2 separate regions of the Homo sapiens genome follow, and region 2 is linked to region 1. The links come from fine-mapping of genetic effects on gene expression. A gene starts in region 1. The other region holds a variant in brackets. All regions are shown on one strand. Distances are between the middles of the regions. Region 1 holds the start of NPY (neuropeptide Y). Region 2 overlaps LOC107986777 (a long non-coding RNA gene).

Evidence for each region.
Region 2: its variant is fine-mapped to the expression of NPY in pancreas (GTEx, PIP above 0.99).

What each region holds. Positions count from the first base shown.
Region 1 is chr7:24,278,988-24,289,095 of GRCh38, reverse strand. It overlaps NPY (neuropeptide Y), which reads right to left and starts at 4,906. Exons shown (of 4, transcript NM_000905.4): 1 at 4,821-4,906; 2 at 3,668-3,855. The coding sequence starts at 3,855. All of the region lies in intron 2 of LOC107986777 (a long non-coding RNA gene), which reads left to right. RefSeq lists an enhancer at 9,772-10,108.
Region 2 is chr7:24,362,922-24,373,029 of GRCh38, reverse strand. The region is part of intron 1 of LOC107986777 (a long non-coding RNA gene); the gene reads left to right. Among named protein-coding and RNA genes, the nearest start is that of NPY, 84 kb to the right of the region's middle. The variant T/G (reference allele first, on the strand shown) is at 6,130.

The sequences.
Region 1 (10,108 bases):
ATACACAGCAGTTTAAATCTTAACAAGGAGACCAGATGATATTTCAAAGACAGTCCTAGAAAAAAAAAATCAGCAGATTGCCGTCCAAGACCCACCTGTGTCTTTGAATCCCAATTTTCTCGTTTGTAAAACAACCCCTGCTTAAATCAGAGTCTTTGTGAACATCCAGTGTGAAATGTGAGTCACAATGCTTTCAAAGTGACAAAGTGATACACGCATGCAAATTACTGCTGTTGAAATGCATCCATTCTTCTGGCTACCAACAGACCCTGGGTCTTATATTTTCCATATTCATTCAAGGTGCCAAATGCTAAAGTCTTTCCTAATGCTGTGATTTTAGCCTCCCTGTAAGTCTAAAGGAATCTAACTGATCCATGGAAATGTTCTTTTTTTTTTTTTTTTTTTTTTCTCCTGTAGCAGGATATGGGTGAGACAATACATACAGGTAAGGTTTCGTTTACCTGTGAGGGTAGTATATGCTCCCCACTCCAGAACACTACAAAACGGCCAGACAAGTCTATACCAAATTGCGTCTTTTGAAGAGGCCATTTTTCTCTTTCTCAGAAAAGGCATTGGACACCATTCGCCACTTTGTTTAGAAATAAATTAGTCTGGTATGGATTGGTTAATAGGTCCAACAACTGAACAAAGCTGACAGAGGGTATATTCTAATTGCCAAGCAAAATTATATCTAAATTTTTTGGAAATATTTTCTATGACTGTTCTTTTGCTGAGACTCAAGGGAAGCAAAAACAAAACAACTCCCTGTCCCACTCCCATCATGTGTGAGATTTTCTCAAAGATTTTCTGGAGTTGCGATATTAGACTATAGGTGTCTGCTTATACTTATTTATTCTGTCCATCCATTGGTTTTACTAATCGTAAAAGTCTAGGGCAACTGTAACTCATTTATCTTCATCATGCTCCAGTGAGTAAAAGAACTGCCAACTTTTTATCCAATTTACCAGTAAAGAACCTAAATCTGAAATAGGAGGATTTGCACAGTCATAATCTTGCATCCAGTTCAGTACTGTTCACTCTTCTTCCTTCTTTAATTAATTCTGGATCATCCTTCCCCTCTACAATGCTGTAACTTTCAAAGATTGAGTCCTTAGAGTAAAGATTCTCAAACCTGGCTGCACATTAGAATCACCTGGGGAGTGTTAAAAACACACTCTAAAGCCCAGGCCCCATCCCAGAGGGTCTGATTTAATTGGTCAGGGGTGGATCCCAGCATCAGTGTATTTTAAAAGCTCCCCTGATAATTTTAATGTGCAGCCAGGAAGGAGAAACACTAATCTAAGGCTGAGTTTCTCTGGGACTGGCTATTCTGTGTAATGGGGGCTGTCCTGGGCATGGTAGGATATTTAGCAGCCTCCTTGGCATCTATACACCTAGGTACCAGCAGTGCCCACCTCCAGTTGTGAAAACCAAAAATGTCTCCAGACACTGCCAAATCACACCTGGGGAGCATAAAATCACCCCCAGTTGAGAACCACTGATTTAGGGGGCTATATAAATAAATTGTAGGAGACCCACACTCTAGAATAAGTAATGCAGCTTCCAGAAGCAATGAGCCAGGGGTATATATACAGCAAAAGGAATATAAGCACAAATTGAGTGCAGGGGGAATGCTGGTGGCGGGGGGCGGGGGGAAAGAAAGATAATGATATCAGATTATATCTATACTAAATTAAAGCACATCCACAAATGACCCTGTAATTTTCAGAAACGCACATAGGAGTGGGTGTCTGTGGTGGGAAGGAGAAGATGGACGTACATTAAGAGCCTCTGCTGGTTTCTAAGAAGGAGTTTATACAAAGATGAGACAGGAAACTCTGCCTCAGAGACCAGCTCATTCCCATCTAAGCTGAATCTCTTGCCATGAAACCCAAGTCCCTTTCCTTTATGTTTTTTTCTCATCAAACATGTTGGAGATAACACTGCCTGTTGATGGTGGTGACAACATCCAAAGACACTCAAAGGAGGGCTCCAATTCCATAATTCCTATAAAAATAGCTTCCATGAAATGTCATTAGCTTCATGATTTGTGAAATGAAGATAATTATACTCCCTTCAAAGCTTTGAGGTAACGACTGAATGAGAGAATGCCTAGGAAAACATTTTAAAATGCTAGAGCTTTGTAAAATGGTAAAGCTTTATGGCAATCATCTTCGGAAAAATGAGTTCTACTGTGTATTATGCTACAGCTAAATAACTAACAAAGGTTTTTCTAGAAAAAACAGTTAATATCTTTTTGTTTGTACAAGTTCTCTTTGATCTGCATGACGGCATAACATAGCAAGAATTTGAATCAATTAACTTTCTGGGAAGTATGGAATATAAAATATTATTGCTTTTTGCTAATTAAAATGATCAGATTTCAAGGGATCACAAACAACTACTATTTAATTCTGGCATTTTCATGTTTTTCAGATTCTATATAAATTGGGGCTTTTTCAAAAGTGTTTTAGGATGTTAAATACCTTTTTGATGAAACAGGAAAAAGCAAACTTTATTTTAAAAGTATAAATCTTCCCCCCTTTTGGATCCTTTCCAACTACTCCCTGACTTGTAAACAGTAAAAATATGGACTAAATAAATAAATATATAAACCCCACAATACTTTAAACATATAATTTAAACATGTTAACTAACATTAATGCTTCTAAAGGGCTTATCCTTTAGATACGGTCAAATGACTAAAATCATTTAATCTCAGTAATTAAAATAAGATATTAAATGATTTAGAACTAAGATCAACCAATTTTGAAAACAAAATTTAAATCCTATGTAATTTGTAAAATAGTTTGGATTTGATTTTTCCCTTAATTGTCAATGTTGAGAGTGAAAATATGGCATTTCATTTTGACTTTCGGAATGTTCAGAATAAAGTTTACAATTTCTCAGATTCCATGTAATCCCTGAATTCATCCTAAAGTTACTGGACCAACGTAAGTTTCTTCTTAATGAAATACCAAGTGGGCACTTTCTTTTCAGAATTCACCAGCTATAAAATAGGGAGACCTCTGCATTTTAGATAAACTGTTTTCAGGCTAAATCTCTAATTATTGGGACTAGAATTTTCAAATATGGGAGTGAGACTGCAAAAAAAACACAGTGAAGAAGAAAAGAAAATAGCTCTATTTGTCTTTTTCTAAATACTGTCATTCAATTAGCCCTGGGCAGGCCGGAAAGTCTGACAATGTCTGTGGCAACCCTGCAGTTTACTCCTTGGTTTGGTTTTCTTTGGTGGTCGTTCTGTTTCTCCTAGACACCTTGCTAGCGTTTCCCCCTACAGCATTTCTCTGGCGCATTCTTGCCCCTTTCACTGGGTACTTTCGAGATTTCTGGACCGGGCCCCACTGCCGTAAGAACCACAACAAACCATAAGAGGTGAGTGAGAGGAGATTGCCAGCCTACCAGCCTGGGGAACCTGAATCTGGGGATCACGACTCTGTGACTGTAGTTGCACAAAATGGAAGGTACCCATTTTGTGTAGAGTGTGCCCTGTACAAACATTTACCTAGAGCTGACTAAGTGCCTGATACTGTCCTGCCCTGGGATAGAGCGAAGGAAAAGAAACAATCCCTTTCCCTAACATCCCCAGGATCTCCTGGTGTGCAGGCACTGGCGCTCCCGGAATCGGTCCCGCGGTCCCACCCACCTCTGCCTGGTGATGAGGTTGATGTAGTGTCGCAGCGCCGAGTAGTATCTGGCCATGTCCTCCGCTGGTGCGTCCTCGCCCGGGTTGTCCGGCTTGGAGGGGTACGCCTCGGCCAGCGCACCCAGGCACACGAGCAGGGACAGGGCGAGGGTCAGTCCGGACAGCCCCAGTCGCTTGTTACCTAGCATCTGCAGGCACAGAAGGCTCAACGGACGGGCTTGGGGATTCAGAGCACCCACGCGCAGCACCTCCCTCCTCTGCCCCCCGCGCTCCTCCTCCTGCTACCACACGCGACCCCCAATCCGCTCTCGTCCCAGTCCCGCAGAGAGAACCCAGGAGTGGCTAGCACCACCTTGCGGGCTCCGGGCGCCGTCCGGTCGGGACCTGCCCCTCTGCTCCACCTGAAAACTTCGCGCAACTTCGTTCGAAGTCTCAGGGACCAAGAAGCGCGCGGCGAGAGTGCAAGGTGGGGGCCCCGCCAGTTTAGCATTCAAAACCGAATTGGAAGTTCTTCCTGCTGGGTCACTTTTCTCCCTTCTTGCCCAAACTCTTGTCTGGGAAGAAAAGTTTCTTCTCTGTTACTTCTGGTCTGCCTAGCTTCAGGGGATCAACGCTGACAGCAGAGATCACCTCGGGGTGACGACTGCGGTGGGGAAGGGGAAAGAGAATTGCTCCCTGGGCCAGAATTGCTCCAAAGAGATTTGGAGCCCAAGAATCCAGGGAGGTGGCAGGGCGCGGGGCTCTAGAGCTCCAGGGATTCCTCACTCGATGGCGCTGCCGGGGAAACCTTCCTACCGCGCACCGCTTCCTGGGCCTCAAGGCGGCGACCCGCAGGGAGACCGCCAGCTGCCTTGGGATAGCGGTCCCGGGTTCTCCCTCCATATCTGCTAAAAGGTAACTCAGAAGAACCGCCCAGCGGGAAGGGCCCGGGAGAAGGGCCGTGGACAATCAGAGGGGAGCAGAGGAACAAGTGGAATTTAGCCGCCAAGAGGGCTGGTCCGCGTCGGGGCGCGGAGCCGGCATAGTCCGCTGGGGAGTGGAGCGCGATCATCCCAGGGCCCCAGGGCTCCACAGAGCGGGAGGCTGCGTCTCTAGCAAGTTCGCGGGCGCCCCGTTCGCTCCCACCCCTAGACAGACGGGTCGTAGCACTCACGGTGGCTGGCGCGCGGGCGTGGCTGGGCGGCAAGTACTATGCTGTCGGGCGAGCGTCTCCGAGGGGTGAGAGCCAGCGGATGGGGTGCAGAGAGCGGGTCGCGACAGGGCTTTTATGGAGCTTCCTCGCCGCGGCAGGAGGGGCCTCGGGCAGTCACGCTTGGGTGACTCCCACCCGCCACTTCCCGCCCCTGAGTGGCGGGGGGAGGGGGCTGGAACCGCAGCCGCACGAGTGTCGACTTAGGGAGCCACCCACACCCCAACCCTCCCGCCCCAGGCACTGCCTGAAGAAGCGGGGCCTGGGACCGCGTGAGCGAGGCAGCGCACTCCGAGCGCGCTGGACAACACCAAAGCCCAAGTATCTGCCCTCGGGCAGTGCCCGATCCCTGCTTTCCTTCTTTCCTTCTTTCCTTCACGCCCCGTCTAGTCCTGCCAGAGATAGGAGCAGCCCAGACGATTCTTGTCTCCTGCCAACAGGACTACCAACCCACTGGGTGCCGGAGTAGGAAGCACCTGAATCCTCTTTGTGGTGGGGCATCTCCACGACTAGCGCGGCATCCTCGCCGGGCACAACTGCGCGCTGTTGGAGTGAGGCAACTGGGCGCACAGATTTTTCCTGTACTTAGAACAAGTCGGAGGCAGCTGCCGGAAGTCTCCGGCTAGAGGGTCCCAAAGCTGCGCTCCCCACCCCACCCCCGCCCGTGGTTTCAGGGGCTTCTGCCCCTTCTCTCAGCTGGTTTTTCTAGATCAGCCTTCCTCAAGTACTCGCTCAGACGCAGCGAGCCAGGCTCGGTCGAGACATGAGTGTGGCGACTCAAAATTCCCCAGAGGGGGAACACGGTAAACCTATTCCCCCAGTTTGCTGAAAAAGAGCCACGCTTCCAGCTTCTAGAGACTCTTTTAAGCTCAATTTTAAAAATATATATTTTTTCTTTTTTGGTCCAAAGTGACGGTGGTTAAATGAACAACAGTTTCTGTCTTATTTACTAACCCTTGTATAGTCCTATGTACGTTCAATTAACGTTGAGAATGTGGGTTCTGATTAAGATGAAACATGTTAAAAACGATGAACATTAATTTGCTCATCGCGTTAAACCTGTTGAATGAATATGCAAGATACAGAAACTATTATTACAGGATCAAGATTTTATGCAGTGGACTGAGATCTGAAAGTTCCGTGAATGAATGCTCCTGTATCTTTCTAAATAAAATGGCATTTTATTTCTAAATGAAATATAAGTCTGAATCTTTCTAAATAAAAAGGCATGTTGGGAAATTAAAGCATTAAGTTCCATGTTATTTTAATGCTAAAAGGACAAGTGATTCTGTTAAACTGACACTTAGTTTTTGTGCTGTTCCAACAGCATTGAATTAAATATCAAAAACCGTGAAGCAAACAATCCTTTGCATGTATGTGTTTGTGTGTTTGTGGGATCAAACTATAATTTTGGAGACCAACATCCCTTTCACTTGGCAACTGCTTCTCTTTCTGTATTACACAAACATATGCTGAGGACACAAAAATCAAGGCTCTCAGAGTTGCTCGGGGGTGCTTACAAGACACAGCCTTCGGTAAAAGTGCAAAACATCTTCTAACTTAGAGCTCTTCCTAGATAAAGGGAAAGTTACAGTCCACTTTTCAATAAAATAATCTTATTTTAGAGTGTATCACAGATTCATATCAATTAAAATCTGAACTTAAAATGTATCACTGAATTTGGGAAAAATTACTTCTAGGAAGGCCCACACCACTATTGAGAGAAGAACACTGTGGAGGCTTGATTAATTTAGCTTAAGATAATGTCATTGATTCTCAAGAATAAGAACTTATTCTGAGGGTTAAGGATTCAGAGAATAAAAAATAGGGGGTGATATGCCCTACATGTGCTTACATCCTTATCTCCTTTCTCTCCAGTCCAAGCCACATCCCCTGGCCAAAATACAAACAAAACCAACTGTTGGCAACTCAACCCTGCATCTTCTCCTAGCTGCTGAGCCATTTCTCTCCTTTGTTTCAAAGTCAAGTTGTTTATTTCTAACAGCTTTGTTAAGATAACATTGAGATACTGTTGAGCTTGTTGAGATTCAAAAGGAGGTGAATCAGTGGAGACTAGAGAAGGTAATGACCGAGAGAAGTCAAATAACCGGTAAAGGTCCATGTGGTTTGCAATTAGGAGGTCTTACTGATAGCAGGTTCATAGCTTGATTCAGATAGAACCTGGACCACATGAAACCCAGTGGTTTCATGACTAAACCTAAGGTAAAGAAGCAGAAGGAATGAATAGATACTGCTGAATATATACAAAGCTACAAATGTGTAAAATATTCAATTGGATATATTCTTACACATATGCATGTGTGTTATATGCTCAGGAAGCCATCACTGAAACCAAGAAAATGAAGATTATACATCACTTCCCCAAATTTCCACATGTACCTTTGTAATTCCTTCCTTTTGCCTCTTCCTCACCCCCTCCTCCATTGATCTGCTATCACTAGAGATTTGTTTGCGTTTTCTAGAATTGCACATAAATATAGTTCCACGGTAGGTACTCTTTGTCTGACTTCTTTCACTTAGCATCATTATTTTTGAATCCACTCACATTGTTAAATGTAGCAATAGTTTATTCTTTTTTATTGCTGGGCAGTATTTCATTATATGATATACTTCAAAATTTTTAATCAATTCTACTGCTCATGAATTTTTGGTTATTTTCACTTGAAACTTTTACGAATAAAGCTGCCTTGACATTCATATGCAAGTCTTTGTATGGACATAAAGCCTTTAATTCTCTTGGAAAATACTTAAAACCAGAATGGCTGAGTCAGACGGTGAGTGTATATTGGCCCACAGTTTGTTGGTGATCTGTTTTTGCTTCTGTTTTGCTCATTTTTTCCTTCATATTTTATTTTGGATAGTCTCTATTGCTATGTCTGTGAGTTCACTAATGTTTTCTTCTGTAATATCTGATTACTGCCAATCCTATCCAGTGTATTTTGCACCTTATACCTGGTAGCTTTCATCTCTAGAGTTTCAACTTGAATCTTTTTTTTAAGTTACAGGACAATATAAAGCAATGAATCTTTTTTATATCTTCCGTATCTAAACGTGTCCACTCTTCTCTCTAGCTTCTTGAATATACATTAATAATAACTTTTGTACTACTAACATCTGTGTGATTTTTGTATACTTTGGGTTGATTGATTTTTCTCCACATTATGGCTTATATTTTTCTTCTTCTTTGTGTGCCTGATAATTTTTGATAGGATGTCAGATATTGTGGATTTTACCTTGTTATTTGTTTTTTTGTCTTTCTATGACTGTTCTTGAGCTTGTTCTGAGACAATTAAAAATTTAAAGACAGTTTTATCCATTCAGGTCTTGGATGTGAGTTTTGTTAGGTGGGACCAGAGCTGGTTTTAGACTAGGTTTACTCTTTCCACACTTTGAGGCAAAATTCCTTCTTTTTACTTTAACTGGTAACTGACTTCCCCCCAACACGCACACCTCAAATTGCACAGCTCTCCCCTCTGGCTGTTCAGATAGACACTATTCCCAGCCCTTGGTCAGCATCAGACACAGTTTACCCTTATCTTTTTGTGTAGTTCTTTTCCTGGTCTCAGGTGGTTTGTTCTTGTGTATAATCTGATCAATAATCAACTAAATCCTCAAGGGGGACACCCTTCAGACTTTCAGAGTATTCTTTCTTTTACCTGATAATCTTCCTGTGGACACTAGCTGCCCTGGCTCCCTACACTTCCAGCCCCAGCTCCTTGGCCAGGATGATTCAATTCCTTCCTTCTGCACTGTAGCCTGGATGACTCCTTCAGGCAGTGTATTCTCATGCTGCTATGAAGAAATATCCAAGACTGGGTAATTTATAAAGGAAAGAGGTTTAATTGACTCACAGTTCTGTATGGCTGGAGAGCCCTCAGGAAACTTACAATTATGGTGGAAGGGGAAGCAAACACGTCCTTCTTCATATTGCAGCTGGAGAGAGAAGTGGCGAGCAAAGGGGAAAAAACCTTTTATAAAACCATCAGATCTTGTGAGAATTCACTCACTATCATGAGAACAGCAGCATGTAGGTAACTGCCCCCATGATTCAATTATCTCACACCAGGTCCCTCCCACAACACGTGGGGATTAAGGAAACTACAATTCAAGATGGGATTTGGGTGAGGACACAGCCAAACCATATCAGGCAGTGATCTGGGACCATTGTATGGCTCTTGTCATTTGTTTTCTATCTCTAAGATATTACTGTCCTTTACTGATGTCCAATGTTTTAAGTGTTGTTTCATCTATTTTTGTCTAGTGTTTTAGTTGTTTCAGCAGGGAGGGTAAATCCAGTTCCTGTTTCTTCATCTTGGCCAGAAGAGCAAGTCTTGTAGCAAGGCTTCTTTAAAAAGATGTTTCTATTCATTGTCTCTGGTTATTCACCATAGGTGTAGTCATGAAACCACTGTGATCTAGGTTCTATCTGAATCAAGTTATAAACCTGCTATCAGTAAGACCTTCTAATTGCAAACCACATGGATCTTTATCAGATATTTGACATCTCTTAACCATTACTTTCTCTTGTCTCTCTGATTCACCTCCTTTTTCTCTGAATGTACCACCATCTCCTTTGCTGACTCACCCTTCTGTACCCATAGTCTTAGCCTTAACCTTTCTACTGCACACATAAGCTCATCTACTCCTACAGCTTATGATCCTGAAATCTCTCCCTTCAGCTCAGATTTCATACCTGGAAACCAGGGCGATACGTCTAGCTCAGAAAAACTCCATCAAGGGCCTCAAATTTAGATTATCAAAGTGGAGCTTCCACTAACATGAATGTCTAATTAAATATCATATGAAGTGTAAAATGTTTTCAAAATTCTTCCATTGAACTATAAGGCCCCACATATTTTGGACCCTACATACCTCCTAGGCTCATCTAACATAATTTTTTTCTTCACTCCCTGTATTTCTGTCCATTGTCCTCCTTTCTGCTCCTTAAATATGCCAATCAGCTTTCCTATTTGGGCCTTCATTGTGCTGTGTCTGCTCTCTGAGATATTCTCTCTCCCTACTCTTTACCTGGCCAACACCTACACAACCTTCTGGGTTTACCTTGAAATATTTTCTGAGTGTTCTTTAGGTCCGTTCCAAGAGGCCAAATAGGAACAGCTCTGGTCTGCACCTCCCAGCTGATCGACGCAGAAGATGGGTGATTTCTGCATTTCCAACTGAGGTACCTGGTTCATCTCACTGGGACTGGGCGGACAAAGAGTGCAGCCCAC
Region 2 (10,108 bases), 84 kb before region 1:
CAGCTAAAGTGTTTATAGTTCCCAGAAGACACAATTCTCTTCCATACTGCCTTTGCTTCATGTTTTTCCTTTTCTCTAGAATGTCTCTCCTGCTCAAATCCCCCTTCCTAATTCAGCTGCCTTGTAGGGCTCGGCTGGAGCAACACCTTCTCAGGGAAGGTGTTCATGGGGTGCTGGGTGCTCCTCGGTGCAGCTGTGCCTCTCTGTGTGTCTCTCAGATGGGCCTTCATCCCACTGCAGGCTGTTGGGGGATTCAGGTCTCCCTCTCCCTCACTATTCTGTAAGTTTCTTCAGGATAGAAGCTGTTTTCTTTTAATGTTCCCAACACTTAGCAGTGTTTGGCCTAAAGTGGGTGTTCAAAAAATAGTAATAAATGTAGTTCTATTATGGTCAGCACACACCTTTTAAAACTAAGATTTAAAAATTAGACTTGCCTCCTAGGCTTGCAACACTTCCGCAATATTGAAGAGCTTAGGGAATCCCATGGGAACAGGGACTCACCAGTTTCTCCTGCTTTGCACTTGTCCCTCAGCCCTAAGTGGCCATTTACATCCCTTTTGGTTTCTCATTCCCATTACAAAAAGGCCTCCCTTGAGTATTAACAATAAATTTGTTAATGTTGCCGAAGTGCTTAGAAGATGGAAAGAGCTGTATGTAAGCTAAATATTATTATTAATAATGGTATGAGATTGATTATTCATTTCCACAGAACTTCTCCTATTTGGTCTGCGCAAAAGTGGAAATTGGTTGTGTTAAATTGGCTTACCTGCTCCATTTGGCGCTGTCAGGAAAATCAGTGAGACACACATGAATATTCTTCCATGTACATAGCCATTTTCAAAGTTAGACGATCATCAATATTTATTGTAAGCAGTTATGGAAAAAAATGGATGAATATTTAACACATGGGGGCATTTAGGTATTATTAAATGTGCCTGGCCAAGCAAATTTTGAAGCTATATTTGGGCTTTAACTTACAACAGAAAATCCATATTATTAATTAGATACATGGTCATGTTTGAAAGGCTGTCGCTAGAATGGTCTTGGAATCTGAAGGCAGAGAACAACTTCTGAATGGCAAAAGCTACTCTATGCCCTTATGCCTAGCAAGGAGTTCCAGACAATTGCAGGATGGTGCCTTTAGACATTTCCTGGTCTTACTGATGAGACAACATCCTAATGTCAGATACGAGAAATTCCCAATTTAGAGACACATGTGCTTCATAGGCCCTGGATTCCCATATCACAACTGATAGCGAACTTTGCAAGAAGGGACATTGCTCACTGAAAGGTTTGAAGGAATAGGCTCTGATTCCAGAAGTATCAGAAAGATGATGGAGCAGGGGCTGTGGGAAGAGCATGGGAGTATTAACAGGAAGTAAGAAAAATGTGGGTTCTAATCCAGTGTCAGCTGTGTGGCCTTGGGAAATGACTTTTTAAAATGACTTTTTCTCTATCGACCTTGGTTTTCCTCATAAGTAAAATGAACTATGAGATCTTTAAAGTCCTTTCTGGAGCTAACTCTCCATAACTTTATAGATGTTGTATTGAACTCAGTGTATGAAGCACCCACATTTGTTTTGCCCTACCCAATAACCCTCCTCCAGAACCCACTCAGTGAAGAGCCCCAGACATTGGGCTCTGATTTGGCCTTTGGACAGGAGTCAAAGCGGCTATAGCTTCCAGGCCTGACCCAACTGGGCCCAGAGACTTTGGCTCCTGACAGTACTTCTGGGCTGAGATGGAGCCCCATGACAGAGGGTAAAAGTTAGAAAAATTTTTCTGTGAAGAGCCAGCTAGTAACTATTTTAGATGGTCCCTGTTGCAACTACTCCATTCTGCCCATGAAAGCAGCAACAGAGACTACCTAAGCAAATAGCTGTGGCTGTGTTCCAATAAAACTCTGTGGACACAATTTCGAATTGCATACAGTTTTCCCATGTCACAACATATTTTATGTCTTTTCATTTTTTCCCAATTGTTTAAAAATATACAAGGCATTCTTAGTTCAAGGACACACAAAATCAGGAGGACTGCCCATGGTATGACTGGGGAAGGGTCCACCTGTGGTCTTCAGGGTGAGGGAGGTGAGATGACACATCCTATAGGGGCGCATAATCCATGAAGTGAAAGCAGCACCCACCTCCTCCAGCTCATTAATTCCCCACTAAAGGCGGCAGCACAGAGGAACACACTCTATTAGGGGGTGGAGAGTGTTCCGAGTTCTTCTGTTTCCTGCCCTTTAGGAGTCCACCCACAGGGTATCCCCTGCGAGGCAGCAGAGACACGATGAGCCATGTGAGGGTTCTCTGTATTAGTCAGGGTTCTCCAGAGAAACAGAACCAATAGGTGATATATAATACATACTCCTGTATGTGTGTGTGTATCAGTATGTGTGTGTGTGTGTGTATATAGATCTGTGTGTGTGTGTATATATATATAAAGATCTCTCTCTCTCTAAATATATATATATATATCCCTACTTCTCTCTCTCAGCTAGTGAATGACATTGCTTCGTATTCCACTGAGAAAATGGAAGCATTCTGAAAGAACTTGTAAACGTTCCCAGAACCACATCTACCTGCCTAACAAAAAAATTAATATATATACAAAATTATATATATATAATTATATATGTATATATATATTTATTTATTTATTGAGAGAGGGAGAGAGAGAGAGAAAGGAGAGATTTATTTTAAGGACTGGCTCACACAATTATGGAAGCTGAGAAGTTCCAAGATCTGCTGTTGGCAAGCCGAAGACCCAGGAGAGCTGACTGCATAAGTTCCAGGCGGAGAGCAGAAGAACACCAATGTCTCAGCTCAAAAGTCAGGCAGGTGGAATTCCTTCTTACTAAGAGTTTTTGCTCTATTCAGGCCTTCGGTTGATTGGATGAGGCCCACCCACATTAGGGAGGGTGATCTGCCTTTCTCAGTCTATGGATTCAAATGTTAATCTCATCCAGAAACACCTTCTACAAAAAGTACAAAGGAATTAGCCAGGCATGGTTGTCTGTGCGTGTGGTACCAGCTACTCAGGAGGCTGAGGTGAGAGGATTGCTTGAGCCTGGGAGGCTGAAGCTGCAGTGAGCCACAGTCACACCACTACACTAAGCATAGGCAACAGGGTGAGACATTATCTCAAAAAAAAAAAAAAAAAATCAAGCAAACAAAAAGCAAAGAAATTGAGCAGTAGCTGGAGGCATAAGTGGGTTGAGTGGGAATGTGTATGTATGCGTGTATGTGTGTACATATGTTTAATATGGGTGATATAGTTTGGATAGTTTTCTTCTCCCAAATCTCATGTTGAATTGCAATCCCTGATGTTGGATGTGGGCCTGGTGGGAGGTGTTTGGGTCACGGGTGTGGATCCTTCATGGTGTGGTGCTGTCCTTGTGATAATGAGTTCTCATGAGATCTGGTCATTTAAAAGTATGTGTCACTTCCCTACCCCACTCTCTCTCTCTTGTTCCTGCTTCTGCCATATGACATGCCTGCTCCCCCTTTACCTCTGCCATGATCATAAGCTTCCTGAGGCCTCCCTAGAAGCCAAGCAGATGCCCGCACCATACTTCCTATAAAGATTGCAGAACTCTGAGCCAACTAATCCTCTTTTTCTTATAACCAGTGTCAGGTATTTCTTTATAGCAATACAAGAAGAGCCTAATGCCATGGAGCAACAATCCTATATGTGAAGGGAAATAATCTAGAATAGAAAAGGAAAGTCATAATGCAAGTAAAAGAAGAAAGAATTGCTGAGGTGATGTGCTTGAATAGAAGAGAGGGATTGGGAAGGAGGGCACAAGTGGAGTGTTGGCCATGGGCAGCCCTTGTCTCTCTTCTTCATAGCTGCAGCAGTTTTCTACTGATTTCTTTGCTTCCATAGGAATAAGGGGATGCTGGGTGCAGTGGCTTCTGCCTATAATCCCGGCACTTTGGGAGGCTGAGGCAGGAGGGTCCCTGGAGCCCAGGAATTCAAGAACAGCCTGGGCAACATGGTGAAACCCTGTCTCTACAGAAAAATACAAAAATTTGGCCTGATTTCCTTGCTTCTAATCTTGCCACCCACAGTCTAATCAGTAACTCTCACAAATACAGTAGCAAGAGTGATTTATTTAAAACATTAGTCAGATTATGTCATTTTTCTCAAAACCCTCCAAATGGTGTCACAGCCACTTAAAGTAAGAGCCTGAATCCTTATAAGGCCCCACTGCCCAGCTCCCTGTGGTCTCTGTGACCTTTGATCGCTCTGCTCCAGTCACATTGATCACCTGGCTGTTCCTTGAACGCATCAGGAATCCTCCTGTCTGGAATGTTTCTTCCTCATGGCTCACTCCTTCACCTCCTTCCTATGTCTTCCCAAATGTCCCCTTTCAGTGAAGCTTTCCCAAAACACCCTAAATAAAGTTGCAACCCTTCCCATTTTTTTATGGAGCTTGTGGCAAAAGTGAGGCAAAGAAAGTTTGTGCCTAAGATATCTTGCTTTCAAGTGTCATTAATAATGTAAATTATTCCCAAATAGCACCAACCTAGTTTGTCTACAAACTACCAGAGGCAAGTAGGCACTTGGATCAGATAAATTTTTTAATGTCATAATTTTTCTTCCTTCTGGAGTAAGCAAGCTCGAAACTGCCAGAATGAGTGACCATGAGTTGGCAGTGGCCAGTGTTGCAAGAGATTACAACTCTTGGTCAAGGGCAATGTAGATGGCTTTGCAAACTCATTCCACATTCATGGAATCCCGGACATTTTCAGTGTGGATAGTTTTGTAGCCAGGAGACTTGATACTTGGTCTCAAAGGAAATTAAATCAATATTTTTACACCCTGATTTCATAAACATCCAAATTTTTTTATGAATTTAACTGAGAAATTTGGAATGTTTCTTGCAACATGCATTTCATATAACCCTTAGCATATTAGATTCCCTGAGACTCTAAATGTCCTGCCAACCAAGGAGAAAAAGAGGGCATCCCTTGCTCGAATCCTGCAGAACTTCTTACCCTGGATCCCTTGCACTCACCCTTACTGCAGTCACTCCCAATTGTAGCAATTGTAGCTGCTCTTCTCCAGTTGGTCTGCTGTGCCTTCCAGTGGAATACTTTTTGCTTCTTTGGGGTGTCTCCTATTCTGAAGTCTGTCAGACACACTGATATTTCCTTCTTTCCCTCCTCCCCATGGCCTCTGCACCACCTCCAACACGCTGCAGGGTTTGTGAGTGTTGGAGGTTGGTCTTTACCCACTCATAGTTTGGGGTTTGTGGGAGGACTTTTCACTGGCTTTGTTGTACATGTTGTCCCCCTAGGCAACCAGCCTCTATCCCAAACCTCCCTCTTATAAATCTTATGGTAGGATTTATTATCCAAAGGATAATAATTTAAACCCAGAGAGGGTAAGGAACTTGCCTGGGGCCTTACAGCTTGCAAGCAGTGGATCTGGGGTTGAATCCCCGTCTGTTTGACTTCGAAGTTTTTCTCTTTACATTATTCAAAATGACATCTCTTAATAGTGTGATTATTAACATATGCCATTTACTCTTCTGGGACAATTATCCTCCCTTCGGGTTTTCCCCCGAATCCCTAACTCTGCTCAGTGCCTTCTGTTGTGCTCCACCTACATTTGCTTTTTGGAGAAACATATTCATTCCTGTGGTTTCATCAGTCACTTCTGTACAATGTTTCTATTTTCCCGCTCTCCAAATGTCTCTCCTTTAACACCGTATCCCAGCTCTTACACTGACTTTGGGACATGTTCATAGGGATGTGAATAGGACCTACTTTAGATTCAAGTCTAAAAAAAAAACAAAACAAAAGAGGCAGTGCCTCCCCTGACCAGAACCTCCTCCCCAGGCTCTTCCGCTACATTTCCGCTTGCCTGCTTGATTTCACACCATCTGCTCCATGAAGAGGGGCTTCTCAGTAGAGTTGTCACGAGCATTATGAAGTGTTAGCAGCAGCTGGTTAAGCATATTTTTGCTACAGTAGAAACATGGGGGTTGGATACAACAGCACAATATGGACTATTTTGGCAAGGAAGAGTAATGGGTGACAGATGTGGTACATGATGTTTCCGAGCTAGAGACCAGCATGACCTGAGCATGTCTCAAAGGCAGGATATACCCATCTCCTG[T/G]CATGTGGAAATGAACAGCAGAGCCTGGACAAAAGCAACTCTGGAAAATCTGGCTGAAAAATCAGCTCTGGGGTGTGGGTAAAACCATTACTTTAGATGTGAGAAACTCAGAAAGTCACTGAATTTCTGTGCCCTAGTTTTCTTATCTGCAATGCTGAAAATCCTAGCAGGTACCTCATAGCATTGTAATGAGGATTAATTGAGATAATAGAAGGAAATCTTCTAGTTCAGTGACTAACACATGGTAAAAGAGCTCAATAAATATTAGGAATTATTATTATCTTCTTTCTCACCATTATCTGTATGTTATGTAAAGTTGAACATGCCCACTGAAGTGTGGTATTTTAAAGGAAACATATGAAGCAACATAAAAGCAAAATAGGTTTTATTCATTTATCCATTTACCCAAGAAATATTTATCAAGTGCTCCCATGTGCTGGACATAGTCCCAGCATTAAAGATACCACAGTAAACCAAACAGAAGAGGTCCCTCATGGACACTTTGTTCTAATGAAGGAAGACAGAAAATAAGCCAAGAGAAAATAAATTAAATATACAAACAAAACCAAAAATATTAGAATGTGATATGCATTCTGCAAATAATTAAAACAGATTTCTGAGACAATGACTGAGTGGATACTTTAATTCGGATGGTCTCGAATGGTAAGCAAGAGGCCATCATGTGAAGGTCAGAGACACAGCATGCCCGACACAAGGCATAGGAGTGCAAAAGCTCTAAAGTGGGAAGTATTTTGGTTGTCTCGGGAGGGGAAAGGAGGCCAGGGTGAACTCAGAGAAGTAGGCAGGCCAGATTGTATAGGGCCTTATAAACAAGGGCAAGGAGTTTGGAATTTATTCTGGGGCAACCAGAGTCGTTGGTACTGGATTAGTTCTCTTACAGTAAACAACTGTATAACTGCAAAAATGTATGAAACAATGGCTTTCAGACATTGGATAAAAGGCAGAGCAAAACTGATCCTTGAAAGAAGAGAAGCACCTTGGCTTCTGTGTGGATGCACTTTCTGGAACACAGTGTAGGGAAGTAGGGCACAGGCACAGCATAGCAGTCTCACTGAGATGAGTAGGCAGAGATCCATGTTTGGGGGTGCTAAAGCAGCTGCAATTTCACAGGGCAGAATGCCAGAAAGGAAGGAATTATACCCAGAAGAAACTCCAAAAATCTGCATAGGAGTTCTCTTCAGTCTTCGGCCAAATATTAAGGTACACATGCAAAGGGTAAGGCTGATGGCTGGGCTGAGAGTAGCTTCTGGGGAGCTGTAAGCTGAACAGAGATTTCAAAGGTCAAACAGTGCTCTTAAGGACAGATTGAACACTGCACAAGAGAAAAACAATAGAAACTGGCTAAACTAAAACACACAGAGAGAGATAACCCTGAAAAAATGGAAGAGAAACTTACTGACTTGTAGGACATTGTCAAGCAGTCTCACATGTGTAATTGGAATCCAGAAGGAGAAGAGAGATATTTGGATAAATGATGCTCTAAAACTTTCCAAATTTAAAGAAAAATATTAATTTACATTCAAACAGCTCAAACAAACCGCAAGCAAGATAAATACAAAGAAAATCATACCTAAGCACATTACAGTCAAATTGCCATAAATAAAAAAGAGAAAATAGTAAAAGCACCAAAAAAAGACACATTGCATTTGAAGGAACAATGATAAGATTAACATGTCTTCTTATAAGAAACAAGGCAAGTTAGAAGATGGAACAACATCTTTGAAATACTGCCAAAAAAAAAAAAGTCAACCTAAGTTTTAGATCCAGCAAATGTATCCACCAAAAAATTAAGGCAAAAATAAAGCTATTTTCTGATAAATAAAAGCTGAGAGAATTTGTCACTCTGGGAATTGTACTATGAGAAATGTTAAAGAACTTGGAAAGATGGAGGACTGGAGGAGGTGGGAGGGAGCTCAATGGATATGAGGTGAGACAGGAGATAGGAGGAAGAAAAGGGAATCACAATGTAGATGGTCTGAAACTTATCATGGGGTTGCATCCTAATAAACCCATCCTAAGTTGGAAATATTGAAAAACTAAATGCATTTAATACATCTAACCTGCTGAACATGATAGCTTAGCCTAATCTATCTTAAACATGCTCAGAAAATAACATTAACCTACAATTGGGCAACATCATCTGCAACACAGCACACTGTGAAATATTGGTTGTTGAGCTTTGTGATTGCGTGGTTGACTGGGAGCTGCAGCTCACTGCCACTGCCCAGCAACCAGAGAGAATATTCTACTGCATATTGCTATCCCAGGAAAAGTTCAAAATTCAAAATTTGAATATGGCTTCTGTTCAACATATTGCTTTTGCACCAGCATTAAGTCAAAAAAATTATAAGTCGAACCATTGTAAATTGTTTGACTTATAATTGTAATGCCTTCATCTGTAATGCCTTCATTAGATTGCTAAATCAAAATGTCCTTCAGGAAAACAAAGGAAAATGATACCAGATGGACACTCATACCTATACAGAGAAATGAAGAGTACTTTTAATTGTTAATATGTGAATAAATATAAAAGACTTCTCTCTGGCCAGGTGCAGTGGCTCATGCCTGTAATCCCAACACTTGGGGAGGCCAAGGTGGGTGGATTGCTTGGGCTCAGGAGTTCGAGACCAGCCTGGGCAACCTGGCAAAACCCTATCTCTACAAAAAATACAAAAATTAGCTGGGTGTGGCGGCATGTACCTGTAGTCCCTGTTATTCTGGAGGCTGGGTGGAAGGATGGCTTGAACCTGGGAGGTGGAGGTTTCAGTGAGCTGAGATTGCACTACCGTACCCTAGCGTGGGTGACAGAGCCAGATCCTTTCTCAAAAAAGGGAAAAGAAAAGACTTCTCTCCCTCACTTCTTAATCTCTTTAAGAAATACTTGTTTAAAGCAAAATGATAAAAATGTATCATGGAGTTTGTAAAATGTAGGAGTAAAATGTATGTCAATAACTGTACCAGGGACAGAAGAGGGCAAGTGAAAGCATACTGTTGTAGGTTTCTTATACATGAAGTAGTCTAATATTTTTTCAAGGTAGACTGCATTAAGTTAGTAGAGCTTATTGTAATCTCAGAGGACCCAATAAAAAAAACTTTAAATGAAGCACAACTAAAATGTTAATAGAGGAAATAAAGTAAAACAATAAAAATAATTAACACAGAAAAAGGCAGTAAAAAAGGATAAAAGGGACAAAACCCAGATATCATAAATGGAGAAAAAATAAAAGAAGGTAGTCTTAATTCAATTGTATTACTAATTACATGAAGGCAGATATCTTCAGACTAGATAAAAGGGCAAGAGCCAGACATAGGCTATTTACAACACGTATGCTTTAAATAAAAAGACACAAGTAAGTTAAATATATAAGAACTTAAGAAACATAAAACTAGTTGTAAGGAAGCAGAAATAGCTATATTAATATCAGACAAAGAGACTTTAAAGCAAAAAGTATCATTAGGGATAAAGGAGATATCTCATAATGATAAAAGAATCAACCCATTAAGAAGACATAATAATCCTAAACATGTATGCAACTAATAACAGAGTTTCAAAATACATGAAGCAAAAACTGACAGAAATAAAGGGAGAAATAAATCTACAATCATAACAGAAGATTTTTAAGATCCCTTTCTAGTAATTGATAGAACAAGTAGATATGTATGATGAGAAGCCATTGGCAGGTTTTAGGCCAAGGCAAGCACAATCTTATTTGATTTATAAAGACTGCTCTGTCTTCAAAGTGGAAAATGGATTGTACAGAAAACCAGGAAAAAGTTAAGAGGTTAATACAGTAGACCAAGCAAGAATGTTACTGGCCTGAACTAAGGTGGCAGTGATGGCTCTGGGGAAAATGGACAGATTTGAATATCCCCTCTTGAGATATCCACAACCAGCCAAGTATAAGAGCCTTCTAGGCATATACTTGCTCAATCTTTGACTCTACTTCTCATGCAGTAA